Homo sapiens: one gene and its partners. The protein of the gene in region 2 interacts with the protein of the main gene of each other region in a pairwise test. Each region holds a gene or a part of one and is shown on either strand. Other genes may lie near its edges.

Region 1 (7,831 bases), on a different chromosome or scaffold from region 2:
TTTTGTATTTTTAGTAGAGACGGGGTTTCACCATGTTAGCCAGGGTGGTCTCGATCTCCTGACCTCGTGATCCACCCGCCTCGGCCTCCCAAAGTGCTGGGATTACAGGCATGAGCCACTGTGCCCGGCCTCTGCCTTCTCTTTTTTTTTTTTTTTTTTTTTTTTTTTTGAGACAGGGTATCATTCTGTTGCCCAGGTTGCAGTACAGTGGTGCAATCACGCCTCACTGCACTGGATCTCCTGGGCTCAAGCAATCTTCCCACCTTAGCCTCCCAAGGCACATACCACCATGCCCAGCTAATTTTTTATTTTTTGTAGAGATGGGGGTCTCACTATGTTGTCCAGGCTGTTGTCGAACTCCTGGACTCAAGCAATCCGCCTGCCTCAGCCTCCAGTGTTGGGATTACAGGCGTGAGCCACCACACCCAGCCAAATATACTTTCTACATCTTTAGTGCTTCTAAGAAGTAAGATAGATTTGGAGGTATGTGCTGATCCTGAGGACAAGTGGAAAATATTTACATGTAGTTTAAAGTTACATGTAGTTTAAAGCTATAAAAACAATACCTTCTGAACTAGGACTCTAGTCACCTTGGAATTTCTATTCCAAAAGTGGAGTTAAGCTGAGAATTTCCTAAAATTTTACTAAGGGCCTAGGACACCCTTCACTGTGGATTCCCTTTTTCCTGCACTTCTGTGGAAATCTAGCTTTATTTTGTGCACACTTTTTTCCTTAACCTTAATCTGGTAGAGAAAAGTCGGAAGACGCCTCTTTTCTTGGCTTTCTATTGGACCCACCTCTTTTACCCTATATCAAAGGCCTATTTGGCCACAAGTATCAGAATCTTATAACCTGACACATTATGACCAATCTGGTCCCTGAGAGGCAGTATGGCATAGCATAAACAACAAGGGCTTTGCATTCAGATAGACTGGGGGCTTTACTTCTTTGAGAATCATTTTCCTGTTTTAAAGGGAGTATACTTGACATAGTTGTTTTAGGAATTAGGTGAAATAGTGAAGGCATAGCACCGGGTGTTCAGTAGTAGTCTAGGGTGGAGGGGCAACAGCCCAAGTTTTAAGAATAGATGTTTCAAGCCAGGCATGGTGGCTCACGCCTGTAAACGCAGCACTTTGGGAGGCCAAGGCAGGTGGATCACCTGAGGTCAGGAGTTCAAGACCAGCCTGGCCAACATTGTGAAACCCCATCTCTACTAAAAATACAAAAAAATAGCCAGGTGTGGTGGCGGGCACCTGTAATCCCAGCTACTCGGGAGGCTGAGGCAGGAGAATCGATTGAATCTGGGAGTCGGAGGTTGCAGTGAGCCAAGATCGTGCCATTGCACTCCAGCCTGAGCAACAAGAGTGAAACTCCATCTCAAAAAACAAAAAACAGGCCGGGCACAGTGGCTCACGCCTGTAATCTCAGCACTTTGGGAGGCCAAGGTGGTCGGATCACGAGGTCAGGAGTTCGAGACCAGCCTGACATGGTGAAACCCTGTCTCTACTAAAAATACAAAAATTAGCCGAGCGTGGTGGCGCGCACCTGTAATCCCAGCTACTCAGGAGGCTGAGGCAGAAGAATCACTTGAACCCGGGAGGCAGAGGTTGCAGTGAGCCAAGATAGCGCCACTGCACTCCAGCCTCGGCGACAGAGCAAGACTCTGACTCAAAAAAAATTAGCTGGGTGTGGTGGCGTACACCTGTAATCCCAGCTACTGGGGAAGCTGAGGCAGGAGGATCACTTGAACCCAGGAGGCGGAGGTTGCAGTGAGCCAAGATCATGCCACTGCACTCCAGCCGGGCAACAGAGCAAGACTTCACCTCAAAAAAAAAAAAAAAAAAAAAAAAAAGAATAGATGTTTCCTAGGCTGACTAATGGATTAAAATTCCCCAATACTGAGGCATATGCTAGTCACAAGTCCGAAGTTGTAGAAGAACCAGTAACTCATGAATTGGCCTTAGCTTGCTCTTGCACTTGCTTACTTGCTTGCTTGCTTCTTACAGAGGGCGGATGGAATAACTCAACATTCCTTCCTTCCTCCACTGCAACACAAGTTACATAGGTGATGATGTGGTAGTTGATTGATCGGCATCCCCTCAGCACCCAGCTCACTGCATTGCACACAGTAAGCAGTTAGTAAATGAGAGCATCAAATCAATACCGTGATTGGTACATACTTGATTCAATAATTATTGGGCACCTACCATTTTGTTGCCTGCAATACACCTTTCCCCTTTTGGTGCAGAGGCATGAGAAGAATTCTGCCTGTTGCCACCCTTTCTGAATGCCATTTAAAAATTCTTAACTACCTTCTCCAAACCACACACACACAAGTTATCTTCCTCTCCCACACTCTTGTCTCTTTCTCTTTGTATTTCAGGGTGTCTACCAGAAGATGGACCCAAGATCCATGGAGGCTCCTGTGACTCAGATCAACTGCCCTGCCCGGGAAACCTGGTCTCTCCGGAAACCTTGATTAAACTGCTTTTTCTGACACCTCTTCCTCTACAACCCTTGATTCTATCACCATTGAAACTTCAGAACCAACTCTAACCATCCCCACCTCCAGGTGAGGGGACTAATGAGAATTACTGACAGCCTGATGGCTACCCCCAAGTCAGTTTCCCTTCATACTTTACTACAAATCTGACCATGTTCCCATATTTACTGAGTAAATTTGATGAAATTTACCTAGTCCTGTGTCCTAGATGTATCAGGGAGAGGGAAGAGAAAGGATAAAGGAAGTTGAGAGCTGGGATAGGAATTAGAGGCAAAGGGCTTATGTAGGGAGCAGAGAGCTAAAATTCTAGTCAGGCACCTCTTTCTGAGGTGATGGGGGAGTATACTGGGAGCAAACTCTTCTAGAGAAAGCATGGTGTGGTAAAAGAAAACCAAGCTTGGATTCAGAAATCACCATCAGCACTTGCTGTTTGACCTTAAATTCCTCATCTGTCAGATTAAAAGGTCTCGGCCGGGCATGGTGGCTCACGCCTGTAATCCCAGCACTTTGGGAGGCTGAGGCAGGCGGATCACCTGATGCTGGGAGTTCGGGACCAGCCTGACCAACATGGAGAAACCCTGTCTCTACTAAAAATACAAAATTAGCTGGGCCTGGGGTGGCACATGCCTGTAATCCCAGCTACTCGGGAGGCTGAGGCAGGAGAAGCGCTTGAACCTGGGGAGGCGGAGGTTGCGGTAAGCCGAGATCACGCCACTGCACTCCAGCCTGGGCAACAAGAGTGAAACTCCATCTCAAAAAAAAAAAAAAAAGATTAAAAGGTCTATAAAGTCCCTATTAAGCACCATGAGTATAAAGGGACTCAAACTGACCTCTGCAGATTCTTGATTCCAGCTTTTTTGTTTTTGTTTTGTTTTGAGATGAAGTCTCGCTCTTGTCCCCCAGGCTGGAGTGCATGGCGTGATCTCGGCTCACTGCAACCTCCACCTCCCGGGTTCAAGCGATTCTCCTGTCTCAGCCTCCCAAGTAGCTGGGATTACAGGCGCCCACCACCATGCCCAGCTAATTTTTGTATTTTTAGTAGAGACGGGGTTTCACCATGTTGGCCAGGCTGGTCTAGAACTCCTGACCTCAGGTGATCCACCCGCCTCGGCCTCCCAAGTAGCTGGGATTACAGGCGCCCACCACCACGCCCAGCTAATTTTTGTATTTTTAGTAGAGACGGGGTTTCACCATGTTGGCCAGGCTGGTCTAGAACTCCTGACCTCAGGTGATCCACCTGCCTCGGCCTCCCAAAGTGCTGGGATTACAGCGTGAGCCACTGCGCGCGGCCATCTTTGCTCCAGCTTTAAAGTGGTTACTCCAGAGGCTGAGGTGGTCAGTTGAGCCCAGGAGGTCGAGACTGCAGTGAGCCATGATTGTACCCCTGCACTCCAGCCTGGGCAACGGTGAGACCTTGTCTCAAAATTAAAAAATAAAACTGTTACAGTCATTTATCATAATAGCTTCTTGTTGCTTTTGCCCATTACCAAAAAACCATGGGCCACACTAGACGATTTACATAAAATTTAACTCAACAATTGGGAGCAACACTATTCTCATTTTATAGTTGAGAAAATTGAGGCTTAGAGAAATTAAATAGGTCAGGCAAGGCGGCTCATGCCTGTAATTCCAGAACTCTGGGAGGCCGGAGCGCGGTGGCGGTTTGGTGGGGGGGAGGGGAGGGATTGCTTGAGGCCAGGAGTTCGAGACTACCCTGGCCAACATAGTGAGACCCGCCCCCCCCTCCCGCCCCCCCCGGTCTCTATTAAATAAATATGAGAAGTTTAATAATTTTCCCAAAATTACATAGTTAATGGCAGATCCAGAATTTACACTAGGTCTGTCTGGTTCCCCAGTCTATGCTCTTAAGTTTTGCTACTTGCTGTAAGGACCACGTAAAATAAAATGTATAGTTAAAGGGAAATTACTACCATTTCCTGTCTGGTTTTCTCCCACTCTCGCCCTCAAAAGTTCACCTGCCCTTGTCCTCAAAGCCACAGGACGCCTAATTGCTATTTTTGGGTTTCAGCTGAAACGCCACGGGTCTGGGGGAATAGCGAGGGTGTGTTACATTTTCGGTCTTCCGGTCAGCCGGAACCACTCACACCGCTGCTGGTGCTGTGTAGGGTGTACCTCTTCGGAGTTCCTGGAGGTGGTGCCAGACTAGAGTGGCAGCTGTAGTAACCAATAGACACGGACTTTGTTGGACCAGAAGCCAATGAAGAATTACGTGGAGGAGAAGCGGCGATAATCTGTTTGAGGATGTAGGCACTGGTGTGAAGGAACATGGCCCTGTATCAGAGGTGGCGGTGTCTCCGGCTCCAAGGTTTACAGGCTTGCAGGCTACACACGGTGCGTGAGGCACCCCCAAAGCTCCGATCCGCATCAGACTTAGCCCAGCCGAAGCCCCCAAATTTTTATGTTAACCCAGCCTCACGCCACTCCTCCTCTCCCTGGTCCTCCGAGTCCCCAGAAAAGGACTCGTATCTAAACTCGTTATCTAATTCTCGAGTTAGCGGTCTGGGGGACTCTGAGCTCGAAGGACCCCCAGCCTAGGGTCTTGTATCACCCAATCCCCTTAAAAAGTAGGAATTCGGACGAAGTCCACTTAACCATCCCAAAGTGCCATCATCTGCAATTCTAAGAAAGAATGATGGGACGTGTGTTACCTGCTAATATATCTTTCCCTCCAGGCAGTTGTGTCGACCCCTCCACGCTGGTTGGCAGAGCGGCTTGGCCTTTTTGAGGAGCTGTGGGCTGCTCAGGTAAAGAGATTAGCAAGCATGGCACAGAAGGAACCCCGGACTATTAAGATATCACTTCCTGGAGGCCAGAAAATTGATGCTGTGGCATGGAACACAACCCCCTACCAACTAGCCCGGCAGATCAGGTAACAGGCCCATCCTGTAACTACCAGGATTATCCTTCTGCCCCTTTACTTTCTCTTCACTTGAGCAGGGGAAGAAAACTTGGTCTGCTTGTTTCTGTTCCGTCCCCATTAAGATAGCCTTTCCTGAAGATTTTGTTTTTGTTTTTTGTTGTTGTTCTTTTATACAGACGGGGTCTCTCCATGTTGCCCAGGCTAGTCTTGAACTCCTGGGCTCAAGCGATCCTTCCATCTCAGCCTCCCGAAGTGCTGGGATTACAGGCATGAGCCACCAAACCCGGCCTGAGATTTGTTTTATCTGTATTAGTTTCTGCATCAGAGTCTCTGTCCTTTCATTGGGGAAAGAAATGAAAGCTTCTGTTGCTCTGGTAACTCATTTCACCTTTGCAAGTTTACAGTTGCTGAGAGATGAGCAACTTTCTCCCCACTGTGGATTGTAACCCTGTCTGTTTTAAATCATTAATTTACTTTTTAATAATTGATACATAATAATTGAACATATGAATGGGTATATGTGATATTTTGATATATGCATACAATATGTAATGATCAAATCAGGGTGTTCAGGATATCTGTTACCCCAAACATTTATCATTTCTTTGTGTTGGGACTATTTCAAATCTTCTAGCTATTTTGAAATATACAATAAATTATTATTAACTGTATTCACCCAACTCTGCTATGGAACATTAGAGCATATTCCTTCTGTCTAACTCTATTTTTGTACCCATTAGCCAACCTCTTCATCTCCCCTCCCCCATCCTTTCCAGCCTCTGGTAACTATCACTCTATTCTCTACCACTGTGAGATCAACTTTTTAAACTCTCATATAGGAATCAGAACATGTGATATTTTCCTTTTTGTGCCTTGTAACCCTGTCTTTTTCTTCATCCCCACCTTCCACTGCTGAAGTTCAACACTGGCAGATACTGCAGTGGCTGCTCAAGTGAATGGAGAACCTTATGATCTGGAGCGGCCCTTGGAGACAGATTCTGACCTCAGATTTCTGACATTCGATTCCCCAGAGGGGAAAGCAGTAAGTTTCTTTCTTATCAGGAATACAGTGACTACTAAACCAAGAGATATTGAAGCAGGAAATTCTAACATTTTATTCTTTTGCCGCAGTTTCTCCATTTGCAGTTGGGAGGGAGACCTACCACAGACTGTCTTGACTATTTCTGGTTAGGAAACTTATGGTGAAAGTTTTTAACTTAGCTTCGATCTATTAAGCAAACATTTGTGCTAGTGAGAGGGAGAGAGATGATATGTTGAAAAAACGAAAGGATAAATATGTAAATTCAGCCCCCTCAACTCTTGAGCACGTACATTATAAGTCATCTGTAGTGTATATTCAATTCTAACATGGCTTATACAGCTGAGCAAACAACCTGGTCACCTCCCCACCTTGTCTTCTTCATGTCAGCTCAGGTAGCACAGACCTTGCCTATTAGGATCCAGAAAAATAGAGTTCTCCTGCCATCTATGTGTAAATAGTGACCAAATCCAAGAGGAATATATCGCACTAGATTCGTGGGACAGAAAAAAATAGGACTAAAAGACCAAACAGAGACCTAAGTAACCACTGTGTTAAGAAGATAGCTTATTCTGGCCAGGCACAGTAGCTCACGCCTGTAATCCCAGCACTTTGGGAGGCCGAGGCAGGTGGATCATCTGAGGTCAAGAGTTCAAGACCAGCCTGGCCAACATAGTAGAAACCCCGTCTCTACTAAAAATACAAAAATTAGCTGGGCGTGGTGGTGAGCACTTGTCATCCCAGCTAATTGAGAGGCTGAGGCAGGAGAATTGCTTGAACCCTGGAGGCGGAGGTTGCAGTGAGCTGAGATCGCGTCATTGCACTCTAGCCTGGGCGACAGAGCGAGACTCCGTCTCAAAAAGAAAAATTATTCTGAAGCCCTAAAAGCTTACAGGAGCAGCAGAAGACTGACTGGCCTCCAGCTTCTATGCTTTGGAACTGGGAAGAACCAAGGATTGAGGGGTGGGGCTGGAGCTTCTATGCACTGAAAGAAGAAAAAATACTGGCCTTCTTTCTTTTCTATTCAGTCTTTTTTTTTTTTTTTTTTTTTTGAGATGGAGTCTCACTCTGTCACCCAGGCTGGAGTGCAGTGGCGCGATCTTGGTTCACTGCAACTTCCACCTCCCGGGTTCAAGTGATTCTCCTGCCTCAGCCTCCTGAGTAGCTGGGATTACAGACACACGCCACCATGCCTGGCTAGTTTTGTATGTTTTAGCAGAGACAGGGTTTCACCATGTTGGCCAGACTGGCCTCGAACTCCTGACCTCAGATGATCCGCCTGCCTTGACCTCCTGAAGTGTTGGGGTTACAGGCATGAGCTGCTGTGCCCAGCCTTTTTTTTTAAGCTTGTTACTTTTTAGTGGTCACCCCCAAAATCTAGGATCCCCATTTTGTGGTAGTTATTCCT
Region 2 (9,031 bases):
AAAAGTTTTCACATTTTTCTCAGAACTGTTATCTGGAAGCTCTCTTTTTTCCTAAGGGTATTTTAATAACAAATACTGATGCATTTGTATTGAAAGTTGATATCTTGGAATGGAAGGACAGAAGAAAGCTCGCCTCTTGGAACTGTAGTTGGCTCTCCTCTCACTCTGACAGTGCTGCCCCTTTTAGTTTGTAAATCTGTACTTGGTGTGTTTAATTTGAAACCTATCGGCTGCTCTCTTGACTGGGGCACTTAATGTTTCATAAACTAATTTCCTTGGTGTGAAGGAAGTAGAACTTTTGAGCTACCCACTGCATGATTTTAAACTGATTTTAATAGCCTAAGTAATTACTCTTTTTTTTTTTTTTTTTTTGCTTAATGAAATTTTCCAAACATATTAAAAACAGAGGGAATACGCCAGCACATCCCAGTATCCACCAGTCAGCCTGACACCCACCACCACCTGCCAGAGCCCCAGGCAGGAGATAACTACAGGTGTCTGATTCTGGGTGGCTACCATGCTTTCAGGGCCATGAGCGTCTTCATGAGTGGAAGGCAGTTGTAGGGTTCTTGGAAAGGACTCAGACTGACCCCTTCAAGGGCCTGAGGTGAAATTCAGAAACTGCCCATGCAGAGAAGCTGAGCAGCGGGCATCATGGAGCGAGGCGTTGAGAGCTTGCATGTTTGTTGGGTATCAGAGAACAGGGAAGGCCTCTCCTCACCTGCTGCTCCTCCCTATGTGGCAGTGGCATGTCACAGTGTTCTTGATGTTCACACACCTGTGCCAGTCCATTAGCCTCACGGGTCAGAAGGCAGCACGGTAGTTCTTAGTGGAGGTGGGCATCACCAGGAATGCTTCAGTGTGAGCTCCCACACTACAGTCTGGAGGCTCACACCATCCTTGCACACATGGCCTTCCTGTCTTAGATATTCTGCCTTATTTTGGAATGCCATCTTTGCTTGTGGTTTTTCACTTCTGTTAAAGTAGAACATGGGGTTTGAATGGGCCTTTGGTGTAACTAGCTATGGCAAGAATCTTTTAAGAGATGTGCTCTTTGGAGATACAATGTCCTGAGCTTGTTTGCCTTTTCCAGAAGCCACAAAATGGCTTTGAAGATAAACAGGCCCATGCTACAGAGCCACCGGCACAAGGCACCTGGTGTGCAGGAGCTGAGGTGCAGCCTGTGGTTAATTGATAATAATCATGTCCCCACATCTGCACAGTGGGGGCTGTTTCTCTCATTTCACACCCCAGTATCCACCAGTCAGCCTGGTGCATGTGTGCGGGGAATATTTAAAGGGAATGTGACGTTCTGATTTGTCTGTAACATTTCAGTGTCACCTAGTTCAAGGCCAGGTTTACGGGTCCAAATTGTCCATAGTACAGAAGACCATTTATCAGGTGAAGCCCGTAAAGCCATAGGCACAGCTATAACCAAAAGAATTCATGAAAGGAGTAACAACTGAAGGTGAGTGGGTTTCCTCATGTTTGTAAATGCAGGTCACGTTGCAGGCTCTTCCGCCAGCTGTCCGTCCATGCAAGGCAGTTGGTCACCCCGCAGGCTCACTTCGGAGATGAAGAGTGCTGGGTGCAGCAGCGCCTCCTGTCCTTGGGTCTCTGTGTATTTGAGGTGGAATTGATGAGCTTGGGAACCAGGGAGAAGCGGTGGAGCTGCTGTTGCCTTGAGCTGCCCGTGTCAGGCAAGGTCTCCGCCTGGCTGTGACTTCTGCTTCCTGGAGACACATCTGTAGGCGTTCCTCACACAAACAAGGTTTTCTCCCTCTTGTGGATCACGGTGTGTGACTGACAGCTTTGGTAATTTTCCCAGCTGGCTTTGAAAGTGAAGCAGGCTGACCCGTCACCAAGAATTCTCTGCCATGGAGGGTCATGGAAGAACGGGAAGAGGTGCTGGCGGTCACAGCAGCCCAGGGTTCGTCTGTGCTCGTTTATAGATTTGTGTGCCCATCCAGTCCTCACTGGGCCCTCCCAGTTTTAGAAATGTTGAACACTAGTGCTTGTAAGATTCGAACAATGAGTTTACCAGCTCTGAGAAAAATGAACTGCTCCAGAACCTTCAAGAATGTTTCTCTGTATCACGCCCACATCACACCGAATCCATTTGTCGTCATTGCAGAGTTCATCTTTCTGGTTTTGAGCACCATCTCACACAGTTCTTTGTCTTTTTCCAGTCTGCTGTTGACTGGGTTAGCTCAGCCCGAAAGGTGCCCCCACCTTTGAGGCAGTTCCCGCACGTGATGTCCAGTACCGCGGTCTTCCCTCTTGCTGCTGCCTGTCAGTCATGGCAGAGGAAAGTGTCATCTGTCAGTCTCCTTTTCATGGACTCCTCATCTTGAGAATTGTAGTTGGGCTGGAAGGTTGCAGGGCTAAGTGGGGTGCAGGGAGGAGCCCCAGGCCCAGGGCTGGCTTGTCTTGGTTTACAAGAAGCTGTGCGGGGTCTCCTGGGGCGTCTGTGGGGGGTGTGGATGCAGAGGCTGAGCAACGGGCGCCATACGTAGTGAGGTGTGGATTTGCTTTAGGAAAATCTCTAGCATCGTCTCCCTATAGCAGCACTTGAAATAAACAAGAAGTTAGGTGGGCCAGGCCCAACAAGAGGGAGGCACGCAGCCTTCCAGAAGCAGAGGCCAGTGGGTGCTGGCTGTGACTGCCCTGTCCGCAAGGTCACCCTGTGTCCTTGAAAACCCAGGTGTTGACTGTCTATTGTCCCTACATAATTTTTCACCTTAGGCCTCAAAGATGCTTGGGTGCGGGGCAGCTCTCAGAATCCACCAGAAGCGTGGAGAGCCTCCATCTGGCCACTACCAGCACCCAGCTTTATAATGTCCCTGTGAGATGGCCCCTTCACCCACCCAGCCATCCCTGCATGGCCCGTTTCTTCAGCTCATCCAGCCTTCACTCAGGTGTCCAGGGGTGCCTCCTCAGCCCAACCTATTTGAAGTAACACCCCTTCCCTACCCCTTTCACTACTTTGATTTTTGTCTACCTGCCCCAGAACATCAGCTCCAGGAGGAAGGGGACTTTGGGTAACCAGATGGCAAATGTCTGCTGCAGCATGATCACAGATCTCGGTAGGAAATCACCATCACAGAGTGAATGGAAGCGAATCACCTCAAAGAGGGTGCTGTTGACAGCGATACGTTTAGCAACAGTTTCCAAACTTCCTGGCTATGGGCTAGGGCTGTTTGGGGCAATAAACCTCTCTCTGCCACCATCTTTTCACCTACCCTACGTCAGGATGGATGAAAGTATGACCTTGCTTTTCAGGGTGCCCGTGTCTTTCTGTTCAGAGGGCCCTGGGAGCAGGCCCTGCAGTGCAGTGGGTTGGGCTGTTGGAGACCTGAGGGCTAGGGGGAGGGAGGGGGTAAATGTGGGTCTGTTCTAAGTGCAAGGCCCTGCCTTAGACGTGTCTCCCTCGGCCCCTGGGTGGTGGCTGCTGCGTGGAGGATGGACTGAGGTGGGCCCTAGTGGAGGTGGGGGCAACGCCTGAGGAGCAGGCCCTGCCGCCTCCTGGGGAAAGGCTGCATGGTTGAGGCCTTCCCCTGCTGGCTTCATCCTTGGCATGGCAGCAGGAGCACACAGAGTGGGGGCCCCACCCCGTCACCCCTGCCCCCGAGCCCAGAACCTGGCCTGTGATGGGTCCTCAGGACACCTTTTGTCCAGGAACCCAGGGGCCAATGACAACCTTCACAGGCATCTGCTGAGAAGACATGGGCCAGCGCTGGATTTGTCCAGCTCTCCCAGGCTTGGTCCAAGGGCTCAGGAGTGGACCCATCCCTGCCCCGAAAGATCCATTTTAAAAATCAGTGACCCTGTACTTTTACTCTCTTTGCACTTGGTTAAGACTTTATCCCTGATTTTATTTGATCGGTAAGGCAGGGACTGCCATCATTCCCCATTTTATAGACAGAGGACAGACGGCCCCATGGCTCCGTGTCGTGTCCAAGGGATGGGCTGGCACCTCTTGGACCAGGCTTACCACCAGGGCCCTTCTCTGAAGCCCCAGTCTGACCGGCCTGCTGCTGGGAATCCCCCTCTGCCCCCACACTAACCTCTGCTGGGGCTGAGCCAGGGCGCGTCGGACAGTCAGGGCGACCCAGCCAGGGCGACCGTTGGCCCCGCTCCTATGGGGCAGCAGGGACCGACGTCAGCAGGGTGGGGCGGGCACCCGAGTGGTATGCCCCGCCCTGCCCCGCCTGCCCGCCCTGGTGGCCGTCTGGGGGCGACAAGTCCTGAGAGAACCAGACGGAAGCGCGCTGGGACTGACACGTGGACTTGGGCGGTGCTGCCCGGGTGGGTCAGCCTGGGCTGGGAGGCAGCCCCGGGACACAGCTGTGCCCACGCCGTCTGAGCACCCCAAGCCCGATGCAGCCACCCCCAGACGAGGCCCGCAGGGACATGGCCGGGGACACCCAGTGGTCCAGGTGTGGCGGGGGTGAGGGGAGGGGGGGTGGGAGCGGTGGAGATGGGGCCGTGGGGAGGGAGCTGAGATACTGCCACGTGGGACGATGCTAGGTGGGGAGGGCTGAGCTGGGCGGGCTCCTCTGGCTGTGGGGCCCCCTGTGTTCCTTGTGGGAGGTGGAAGGAAGTGAGTGCCCTGTCCTTCCTCCCTGCCATGAGATTCCAGGACCGGACCTGGCAAGTGCCCTATCCCAGCCAGTGTTCCTGGGGCTCTTCCAGGCAGGGCTATGTTCCCCAGGCCAGGGGCATTGTCCTGGACAGTCAGGAGGCATACCCCTCGCCAGGTGGAACCACCCTGTGTATGCATGACCCTGACAAGCAGGCGCCAGGACAGTCAGGAGGCCAGGTAGGGGGCACGGGCTGGAGCCTGCAGCTGGACGGGGTTGGGGGGGGTCCTGCCACCACGTGCCAGCTGTGTGCTGAGGACGAGCTCCCCGCTGGCTTCAGCTCTCGGAGCATTTGGTGGTGGGGAGAAGCAGGGCCTGGGCAGGTCGCCTGGCCACCAGCACTGCTGCCTGTAGGAGGCTCCCTGGGCAGGTGACGCCTCAGAAACCGGGCGAGATGGTGACCGCGGGCCATTGGTCAGCTGGGGAGGGCCTCTGCCAGGGAGCTCCTGAGAGCAGCCCCCACACTGCTGAACCCCTTGGCTCTGGGTCTTGGGCTGAGGCCTTAAGTGGCTGGACCCTGGGCCTAGACTCAGGCCCTGTGGGTTCCAGAGCAGTCTCCTGCCTGCACTGAGTCCCCAGGGTACCTACCCTGACCATGGCAAGGTAATGGCACCTTCTGGCCCCACCAGTTCCCAGCTGTATGAGGGCTGAGGACCCTAGAAGTGCTGGGAAGAGTTGTAGGAAGGCCCAAAGGGGCAGTGCCACCATCGGATGTTGGCACCCAGATGAAGGGAGCGCTGGCTGCATGGGAAAAGCTGGCAGCCCAGATCACAGCCCTGTCAGGCGCCAATTAGAGGGGAGGGCTGCCCTCAGCGGGCCCTGCCCCTTGCTCTCTTCCTCTTCCCCCACCCACGTTCATCCAGGCCTGCCGGGCAGGGCCAGCTCCCCAGGGATTCAGGGCCTCCTCACTGGCGGCTGGTTTGAGTGGCTCCGCCTTCACTACGTCCCTCCCAGGCTCGATGTTTAAAAAGGAGCCCTTGCCGCAGCCTTCACTACGTCCCTCCCAGGCTCGATGTTTAAAAAGGAGCCCTTGCCGCAGCCTTCACTACGTCCCTCCCAGGCTCGATGTTTAAAAAGGAGCCCTTGCCACAGCTCTTCAACTTCCTTTGCAGGCCCTTATTGGGTAGCGCCAAGGATTCTGGAGGGGCCTGTGGGTCAAGGCTGCCACACGCACGCCTTTTCCTAGCCCGCCCTCCTGCAGCCACATCACAAAGGCTGGGCCAGGCGAGAACAGAGCTGGAGGGCGGCACCCACACTCTCCGGTTTGCTGCTCGCCTGGCCCGGCCCCGCACAGTTCCCTTTTCTGAATGGAGGGGCCATGTGACCACCTGTTTGCTCAGCCGTGGATGCTGCTTCTGCACAGGGGCCGTTTGCTCTAGAAAGTTCACAGGAAGCAGGCTGCTGGGCTCAGGGAGTGCAGAGTGGTGGGAGGAAGCTGTTCAAGCTGCCCAAAGCTTTCCGGTTCTTGGCACACCCCCCGTCCCCCGCGCCCCCAGCAGGATGGAGGATTCCCAGCCTGGGGTCCTAGTCAGGCCTCAGGTAGCCGACTGTCTGGGCCATCCTCTCCAGCCTGACATCCTTGTCTCCCCGGCAGCTGTGGAGGGTGCCCCTGTGCCCACCTGGCCAGCACCACCTGCCCAGCTCAGAGAAGGGGCTGTGGCTGCCGCCTGCCACGTAGGGCAGATTGCTTGCCTGGAAGGGCTGTTCTTGACTTCCTCCTTCCAAGGAGGCCCTGGAGTGGCTCTGTGTTCTCAGTCCTGTGCTGGCCTCAATGGGGGTGAGGATCAGTGCAACTGAGCTTTCTGCTGTTTCTAGCTAGCGGCCAGGCAGTGCGGGGCAGGTGCCACCTGGACACAGGTCCCCCACCTCCCCCCCTTTCTTTTTCAAGACAGAGTCTCTCTCTGTTGCCCAGGCTAGAGTGCAGTGGTGCAATCTCGGCTCACTGCAACCTCGACCTCCTGGGCTCAAGCGATCCTCCTACTTCAGCCTCCCAGCTGGGACCACAGGTGCACACCACCACACTCAGCTAATTGTTGTTTTTTTTTCTTTTTTTTTTTGAGATGGAGTCTCGCTAGGTGGAGTCTCACTCTGTCGCCCAGGCTGGAGTTCAGTAGTTTGATCTCGGTTCACTGCAACCTCTGCCTCCCAGGTTCAAGCGATTCTCCTGCCTCAGCCTCCCAAGTAGCTGGGATTACAGGCACCCGCCACTACGCCTGGCTAATTTTTACATTTTTAGTAGAGATGGGGTTTCACCATGTGGGCGAGGCTGGTCTCGAACTCCTGACCTTGTGATCCTCCCGCCTCAGCCTCCCCAAGTGCTGGGATTACAGGCGTGAGCCACCATGCCCGGCCCTGGCTAATTTTTAAAGTTTTTTTTTGTTTTGTTTTGTTTTTTTTTGTAGAGCTGAGGATGTCCCCATGTTTCCCAGGCTGCTCTTGAACTCTTGGGCTCAAGTGATCTGCCCACCTCGGCCTCCTAAAGTGCTAGGATTACAGGCATAAGCCACCGTACCTGGCTCTAAAGCTCCTTTTTAAAGGCACCTTTGGACTGTGTGGCTTTTAGTGGAAAGTTAAGGGTGGGGGCCCCCATGTCCCTTCTGCAAGCCTCGTGTGTTAAGTCAATGAAAACTGTTTACAGAGAGCCTGGGGCTAGGTAAACAACAGGGCTGCGGGTATCAACCACGCCAGGACAGGGCGTGGAGGCCAGGGCTGTACTGGGTTAGGCAGCCTGGCAGTGAGGACTGTGTCCTTCTGTGGTAACCCAGGGAGCAGCCAGATATGGGGCAAGCCAGTTGTCCCCAGAGTGGAACCTGGCTGCAAATGACGCTGGCGAAACCACACTCACTGCCAAGTTCCAGGACAGACAGCACTTCCTCCCACACAACTTTCTCCAAACTCCAGGGGTTAATGGTTGGCCCTGCCGTGGGGAGGGGCTGGAGCCAGGATAGCCTCTGGCAGAGCAGGAGGTGTCAGAGGACGCAGCTCTGGGCTGCTGGAGTGACCTGTTCTTGCCTCTGAGATCTCGCCCGGCCTCCCTCACCAGGATTGGGAGTGTGAGCTGGCCGGCCTGGCTCTGTGACCTCGGGCATGGTCAGTGCCCGACTTGGTGGTCTTTTCTCCCGTGGGAAGCGTCTAGGCGCAGACTTGCAGAGAGTGCCGAGAAGGCCGTATACCTGCCCCTCTGTCCACAGCACACCGTCATCCACTCACTCATCTGGGGCAGGTTCTTGGGAGCACACACCCGGGGTGCAGCCAGCTCCCCGCAGGGGCAGACAGGACCTTTTGGGAAGGGTGGGGTGAGACTCTCCAGTGTCCGACTCCTCTGCCACCCATCTCCTGGTCACCCTCTCCCCTGTTCTCTTTGAGGGGAACAAGCAGGGCCCGGCCCAGGCACCTTTTGTGGGGATGAGTCGTTGCTGTGACCTGCCCGAGTGCTGGCCACTCAGTTGCTCCCAGGAGCCACTGTGCCTCATTTCTGGCTGCCTGTGTTCTCCCAGGGGTCAGCAGATAGGTGCGATTAGGTGTTTGAATGCTTGCCAAGTTGCCCTCCATCAAAGCTGTCCCCATTCACAGTCCATGTCCCCCAGCCCTGAGGGAGGTCTCTGAGTGATGAACTCGAAGCAGCAGGGCCGTGGGGCCTCCCCAGGGCCTGACCATCTCCTGTCCCACAGGCCCGAGTGCCAGGCATGGACGGGGACGCTGCTGCTGGGCACATGCCTTCTGTACTGCGCCCGCTCCAGCATGCCCATCTGCACCGTCTCCATGAGCCAGGACTTCGGCTGGAACAAGAAGGAGGCCGGCATCGTGCTCAGCAGCTTCTTCTGGGGCTACTGCCTGACACAGGTTGTGGGCGGCCACCTCGGGGATCGGTAACTGCCCATCTTCCCCATCTCCTGGCTGGTGGGGGCCGCCCCACTGGGGCCTCCAGGGGCGAGTGGGCTGGCTGTGCTGCTGCACGCAGAGGATGCGACTCCTGGGGAAGGAGCTTGGTGGACACAGAGGATGCGACTCCTGGGGAAGGAGCTTCGTGGACACAGAGGATGCGACTCCTGGGGAAGGAGCTTGGTGGATAAATCTGGGCAGAAGACCCCCCCAGAGGAAGATGGGAGCTGGGAGGGGAGAGGCCAGGCTTGGCAAGGCCCCAGGGCCCTGCAGGCAGAGGAGGCAGGCCGCTCCCCTGGAGTACCTGGTCTCCTCACGAGGCAGCTCTGGGGTCATGAGCAGGCCCTGTAGAGGCAGACAGGCCAGGCCCAGCTCTGAGCACCCACTCAAGGGCTGCCCTGAGTCAGGGTGGTGCCCCTTGGTCCTGCACAGCCACATCCTCACCTCCCTCTGTCTTCCCTCCAGGATTGGGGGTGAGAAGGTCATCCTGCTGTCAGCCTCTGCCT
Region 3 (5,951 bases), on a different chromosome or scaffold from region 2:
GGCCCAGACTCTGATCCTTTTCTTTCCCTTCTCTGCAGGGCTGGTCCACAGGCCGAATTGCCCACATCCCGCTGTACTTTGTCAATGCCCAGTTTCCACGTTTTAGCCCAGTGCTTGGGCGGGCCCAGGAACCCCCTGCTGGGGGTGGAGGCTCTATTCATGACCTGCCCCTCTTTACTGAGACATCCCCAACCTCTGCCCCTTGGGACCCTCTCCCAGGGCCACCACCTGTTCTGCCCCACTCCCCACATTCCCACCTCTAAGAATAAATAAGTTTTCCTTTTGTTTTCCACTCAGTTACCAGTCTGTCTTTTCCAGGGAGTTGCAGTGGGGTACAGTAGGGGAAAAAAGCATGGACTTTGGGTTAAGGCCCTGTTCTGTCACTTTTTAGCCACTTGTGAATTTGGTCACGTTATTTAATCCTAGAAACTATGGTTTCAAATGATTTGGGAAGCAAGGCTGAGAAGTTACTGTGAAGAAAATATATCTAGCACAGGGTCTTACACATAAATAGTTGTTTCACTTTTCACAAGTTTCTGGAATGGTGTAGGGCAAGAATAAGTCAAGGACTGGGTCAGTATGAGATGGAAGGTTTTATTAGACTAGGAGATTTGTGGGAGGTATGAGCGCTGGGCCAAGGTGGCACGGGCCATGCTCAAGGCACCCTCTCGGGTGTGGTGACCGCCAGTGAAGCCGCTTGCATGGACGAAGATGCAGCCAGGGATCCCACTGACCTGGTCCAGGGCCTCGTCCCGAAGACCCCGCCATGGCTCTGGCAGGGGCAGCCTGGGCAGAAAGAGGGAGTACAGCAGGGGTCAGAGTTGGCAGCCTTCTCTTAACAAGGCTGAGACAAGCCTGAAGGTCTGCAGAGTGGTTCCCTAGGGCCTCACCGGCTTTGGAATGAGTGGGGCTCCTTGGGCACACACTGTATTCGCCACTGTCCAGCCTGGTCAGTGTAGATAACAAAGAAGATGGCCACTGGAGGGGACAGCCCAGATTCCAGGTGGTAGAGATGCTCCTTCCAGGGACATGCACCTTTCGCCAGTTCCACAATCTCTCCACTTGGGTCCACCTGAAAGAGGGAGAGCATAGCTAGAAGGTTTAAGGTAGGCTGGGCATGGTGATCATGTTTGTAGTCACAACATTTTGGGAGGCTGAGGTGGGAGGATCAGTTGAGCCCAGGAATTTGAGACTAGCCTAGGCAACAAAGTAAGACCCTGTCTCTACAAAAAATACAAAAATTAGCTGGGTGAGGTGGTGTGTGCCTGTAGTCCCAGCTACTCAGGAGGCTGAGGTGGGAGGACTGCTTGAGCCTAAGAGGTTGAGGTTGTCTGCCACTGCACTCCAGGGTTTAGGGTAGAAGAAGCAGGAGTTCCTGTTGATTGGCAGTCAGTAATCCTCAAGCCATAATGCCTCCTCCAAGGCCTATACCTGGAATCGCTGGGCAAGGGCCTCTTCCACCAAGGCCCGGGCTGGCAGCCAGCTGTGTTGGTAGAAATCTAATCTCTGCAGAAACTCCTCTTGAACCAGATCCATTGCACGCTTGAACCCTGCCTGGGAATGATGAGAATTAGAACCATGATGCTGGCCCAAACTTGGAATTTGCTAGGGCTTAGGAGGAGCAAATGCTCCCATTTTCCCCCCACCCAAGGTTCTTACAGGTCTCCGGGTCTCCTCCCAGGCCACCTTACCTCAGTGTCTTGGTCGGGGTGGTTCCAGGTAGGATTAAGTCGAGCAACTCGTGCACTCAGGGTAGTGGTCAGTGCATATCGAGGCTCCCCCTCTGCCCACTGGGAGATCCCATTGTCCACAGCATCCACCTCCTCCACAAAGTTCTCATACATCTAAGGCAGCAGCAGGGGAAACCTTCTTGAGGCTACCTGCTACTTATGTGAAATCTTACATGATTCAAAGTATGTTCATACACACTCTTTCAGCCCTGTGAGGATCTCTCAACATTAACTGGATGAGAAAAGGGAGAATTGGCAAGTTCAGCAGCTCGCTGAAGCTCAGACAGCTCGTTGTGCTGTGACTGGAATTCAGATCACCTGATTTCTAATCCATGCTCATTCTGCTGCACAAAGCCCAAACCAAAGCCAACACGTGTAGGGAGGGGACTGCTAACTTTTGAACAAGGAAGGTCTCTAGGTGCTAGAGGCTCTCTGTGGGAGTGGGTCCCTGTGGCTGAAGGCTGGTAAATCTCCAGGTGGGGTGAGTAGGTATTCAGTGACACGGTTAATGAGGTGCAGGAGCGGCTCTGGTTGAGAACACAAGTCAAGTGGGAGAAAATGAGTGTGAGACTAGACACCAAAAGCTGGTTGCTGGGTTAGGGTTCCAGGGAAGCCCATAATGTGCCTCATGACATCAGCAGTTGTCTCCTGGGTCTGAATAAATGGTAGGATAATGCCTCAAGAGTCTCGGGGCAGAAACTTTATGCAAAATTACCCTACAAAATAGGCCTCCATAACAGTACACCTGTGGTATGTAGAAAAGTGCTACTCTCAGAGCACTGAGAAAGTAACTCCTATGCCCAGCTCTTCTTGGTTTGGATCCCAACCTGATGCTCAGTTAAAACATGGGTTTAGGCCGGGCGCGGTGGCTCACGCCTGTAATCCCAGCACTTTGGGAGGCCGAGGCGGGCGGATCACGAGGTCAGGAGATCGAGACCATCCCGGCTAAAACGGTGAAACCCCGTCTCTACTAAAAATACAAAAAATTAGCCGGGCGTAGTGGCGGGCGCCTGTAGTCCCAGCTACTTGGGAGGCTGAGGCAGGACAATGGCGTGAACCTGGGAGGCGCAGCTTGCAGTGAGCCGAGATCCCGCCACTGCACTCCAGCCTGGGCGACAGAGCGAGACTCCGTCTCAAAAAAAAAAAAAAAAAAAAAAAAACATGGGTTTAGGCTGAGGTGGGAGGATCACTTGAGCCCAGGAGTTTTTGAGTCCAGCCTGGGCAGCATAGCAAGACCCTCTCTACAAAAAAATTAAGATATATAATTAGCCAGGCATGGTGGCATGCACCTGTAGTCTCAGCTACTTGGGGGGCTGAGGTGGGAAGACTGCTTGAGCCCAGGAGTTCAAAGCAGCAGCAAGCCATGATGGCACCACTGGACTCCAACCTGGGCAACAGTCTCTCAAAAAAAAATACGGGTTAAATTTAGTCAATTGTTGCTGGGATTAGTGGCTCACGCCTGTAATCCCAGCACTTTGGGAGGCCAAGGTGGGTGCGTTACTTGAGGTCAGGAGTTTGAGACCAGCCTGGCTAACACGGTGAAACCCCGTTTCTACTAAAAATAAAAAATTAGCCAGGCGTGGTGGCAGGCGCCTGTAATCTCACCTACTTGGGAGGCTGAGGCAGGAGAATCGCTTGAACCCAGGAGGCGGAGGTAGCAGTGAGCTGAGATTGTGCCACTGCACTCCAGCCTGGATGACAGAGCAAGACCCCGTCTCAAAAAAACAAAAAAAAACAACAACAAAAATTTAGTCAGTTGTTTAGAAACCCTTCAGCAGTGGAAGGGAAAACTGACCCAGGCAGTCTAAAATCTTGATATTCCAAAAACTCTATAGTTACAGAGGGCAGAAAATGGGCAAGCTAAAACTGAGAACTGATGGGCCGGGTGCAGTGGCTCAGACCTGTAATCCCAGCACTTTGGGAGGCTGAGGTGGGCAGATCACGAGGTCAGGAGATCAAGACCATCCTGGCTAACACGGTGAAACCCCACCTCTACTAAAAATACAAAAAATTAGCCGGGCATGGTGATGGGCGCCTGTAGTCCCAGCTACTCGGGAGGCTGAGGCAGGAGAATGGCGTGAACCCGGGAGGCGGAGCTTGCAGTGAGCCAAGATTGCGCCACTGCACTCCAGCCTGGGCGACAGAGCAAGACTCCATCTCAAAACAAAAAACAACAAAAAAACTGAGAACTGAATTCAACAGCCTACCTGCAAGAAATACAGCTGACTGAACCTGGGCTTTGACTTGTAAACAAGTAAGTGTCCTCAGTACTGTGCGACCTGACTTGCATGCCAGGGCCACTAGCCATATTCTTTCCCTAAGAGCAGGAAGCTGCTTGCAGGGGACACTGGTGGAATCCAAAGACAGTTTCATAATAAAACTCTTCTCAGCTGAGCTTCCCAATTTATGTGCCACTAGTGAACTACAGTGGTGCCTAACATACACTCCCCTCAACCTTCAGGGCAGCCAGAACCTCTGAGCCATCTGCTTCCACACATAAGCAGCCTCCCCTCTGTTTACCCAAAGGTGCTGAGCAATTGCTGTTTGTGTGTGTCAATAAAAAGACGGGGCCATGCTGCTTTATGGTTTTCAAAGCCCTTCCCCATATATTACAGCATCCACTTCTCACAACCACCCCAGGATGTAGACAGGGGAGGTATCACCATTCCCTTGTGAGATGAGCCTGACTGAGGGAGAGGATGAGTGTTGGGCCTGCTATAGGCCAGGAACCCTGACCCGAGGCCCAGTGCTGAGTGCTGTGTGAGCACTGCTCCCAGGCGGCCTGCTGGAAATGCATGTGGGGGGCATCTCTGTCCTCAGGTCCCCACCTTGTCATAGAGGGTGCCCACCATGCTGTCCTCTTCACTAGTGCCCAGCAACTGGGCCAGCAGCTTGTGCCCGAAGTGCAGATAGATGAGTCCCGCACTGCTCAGCTTGGTCTGCCACGGCTTCCCAGGGGACAGGGAGCTCATGGTCTCTGTGAAAGACCTGAGGAGCATAGGGAGGTGGGGCTGAGGTGAGGGACCTTGGCTAGAGTCTCCATGCATTCATTCAATGGTTAACTCAATGCTTCCTATCTGCCACATTTTATGTTTTATTAGACATTAAGGATAAAAAACCAAGACACTGTCCTTGCTTTCAGATTCATCTGCCGGAGGCCGACAAACACAACCCCCTGAGTACTCTCACTAGACGAGACAAGGGAAAGGAAGGAAGGGATGAGGAAAGGGTTCAGAGGAGAGCCTTCAGGTCAGTTCTGAAAGATGAATTAGTGGGTGTCCACCAGATAGACAAGGGGTGAAAGAGAAAAAGCATTCCAAGCAGAGAGAACAACATGAATGATGGCTGAGAGACAAGTGTCTTGATGGAACTTCAGCAAAGGCAGCTCAGGTGTGAGAAGTGAATGGCAAAAGAAAAAGCTGGAAGGGCAGGCAGGGCCAGACCATCGGACTTTATCTGTGGGTAATCGAAGTCATTGGGGGATTTTAAGCAGGCAGGTGCATGTTACAGCATTGCACCAGCCAGCATGGAGAACAGATGCAAGGAGATTACCTGCAATGGTTCAGGTGAATAAAGAAGGCAAGAATTTGAACAGCAGTGGGGCAGAAAATAGAGAAAAGATATAACAGATGTTAGGGAAGCAGAAACTACAGCCATGATTTCTAAATACCAGTCCATCTCAGAATTACCTAGGGAGCTCCATTTGTTAACTGACTTTTATTATTAAATATTGAGTAAATACAGGCTGGGCTCAGTGGCTCACACCTCTAATCCCAACACTTTGGGAGGCCAAGGCGTGATCACTTGAGGTCAGTAGTTTGAGACCAGCCTGGCCAACATGCTGAAACTCTGTTTCTACTAAGAATGGAAAAATTAGCCGGACATGGTGGCACACGCCTGTAGTCCCAGCTTCTTGGGAAGCTGAGGCAGGAGAATTACTTGAATCTGGGAGGTGGAGGTTGAAGTGAGCTGAGTGCCACTGCACTCCAGCCTGGGCAACAATAGCGAAACTCCATCTCAAAAAAAGTAAAAATAAAAAAAATGAGGCTGGGCATGGTGGCTCACACCTGCAATCCTAGCACTTTGGGAGACTGAGGCGGGTGGATCACCTGAGGTTAGGAGTTCAAGACCAGACTGGCCAACATAGTGAAACACTGTCTCTCCTAAAAATACAAAAATTAGCTGGGCGCCTGTAGTCTCAGCTACTTGGGAGGCTGAGGC

The links. Proteins that work in one complex are often made in the same cells at the same time.
Region 1: the proteins of SLC17A9 (region 2) and TARS2 interact in binary tests that used the Homo sapiens proteins (3 or more experiments, as listed by UniProt).
Region 3: the proteins of SLC17A9 (region 2) and MYG1 interact in binary tests that used the Homo sapiens proteins (3 or more experiments, as listed by UniProt).

The regions. Positions count from the first base shown.
Region 1 is NC_000001.11:150,482,662-150,490,492, forward strand, and holds the start of TARS2 (threonine--tRNA ligase, mitochondrial), read left to right. Parts: upstream 1-4,757; 5' UTR 4,758-4,789; coding exon 4,790-4,855; intron 4,856-5,196; coding exon 5,197-5,393; intron 5,394-6,302; coding exon 6,303-6,426; intron 6,427-7,831. UniProt on the Homo sapiens protein: Catalyzes the attachment of threonine to tRNA(Thr) in a two-step reaction: threonine is first activated by ATP to form Thr-AMP and then transferred to the acceptor end of tRNA(Thr). Also edits incorrectly charged tRNA(Thr) via its editing domain.
Region 2 is NC_000020.11:62,948,451-62,957,481, forward strand, and holds the start of SLC17A9 (voltage-gated purine nucleotide uniporter SLC17A9), read left to right. Parts: upstream 1-4,258; 5' UTR 4,259-4,380; coding exon 4,381-4,439; intron 4,440-4,760; exon of another isoform or gene 4,761-4,781; coding exon of another isoform or gene 4,782-4,822; intron 4,823-8,314; coding exon 8,315-8,512; intron 8,513-8,990; coding exon 8,991-9,031. UniProt on the Homo sapiens protein: Voltage-gated ATP nucleotide uniporter that can also transport the purine nucleotides ADP and GTP. Uses the membrane potential as the driving force to control ATP accumulation in lysosomes and secretory vesicles.
Region 3 is NC_000012.12:53,301,801-53,307,751, reverse strand, and holds the end of MYG1 (MYG1 exonuclease precursor), read right to left. Parts: intron 4,719-5,951; coding exon 4,559-4,718; intron 1,845-4,558; coding exon 1,692-1,844; intron 1,555-1,691; coding exon 1,432-1,554; intron 1,073-1,431; coding exon 891-1,072; intron 787-890; coding exon 603-786; 3' UTR 575-602; downstream 1-574. Other genes in the region: AAAS (aladin), read left to right, coding at 39-263. UniProt on the Homo sapiens protein: 3'-5' RNA exonuclease which cleaves in situ on specific transcripts in both nucleus and mitochondrion. Involved in regulating spatially segregated organellar RNA processing, acts as a coordinator of nucleo-mitochondrial crosstalk.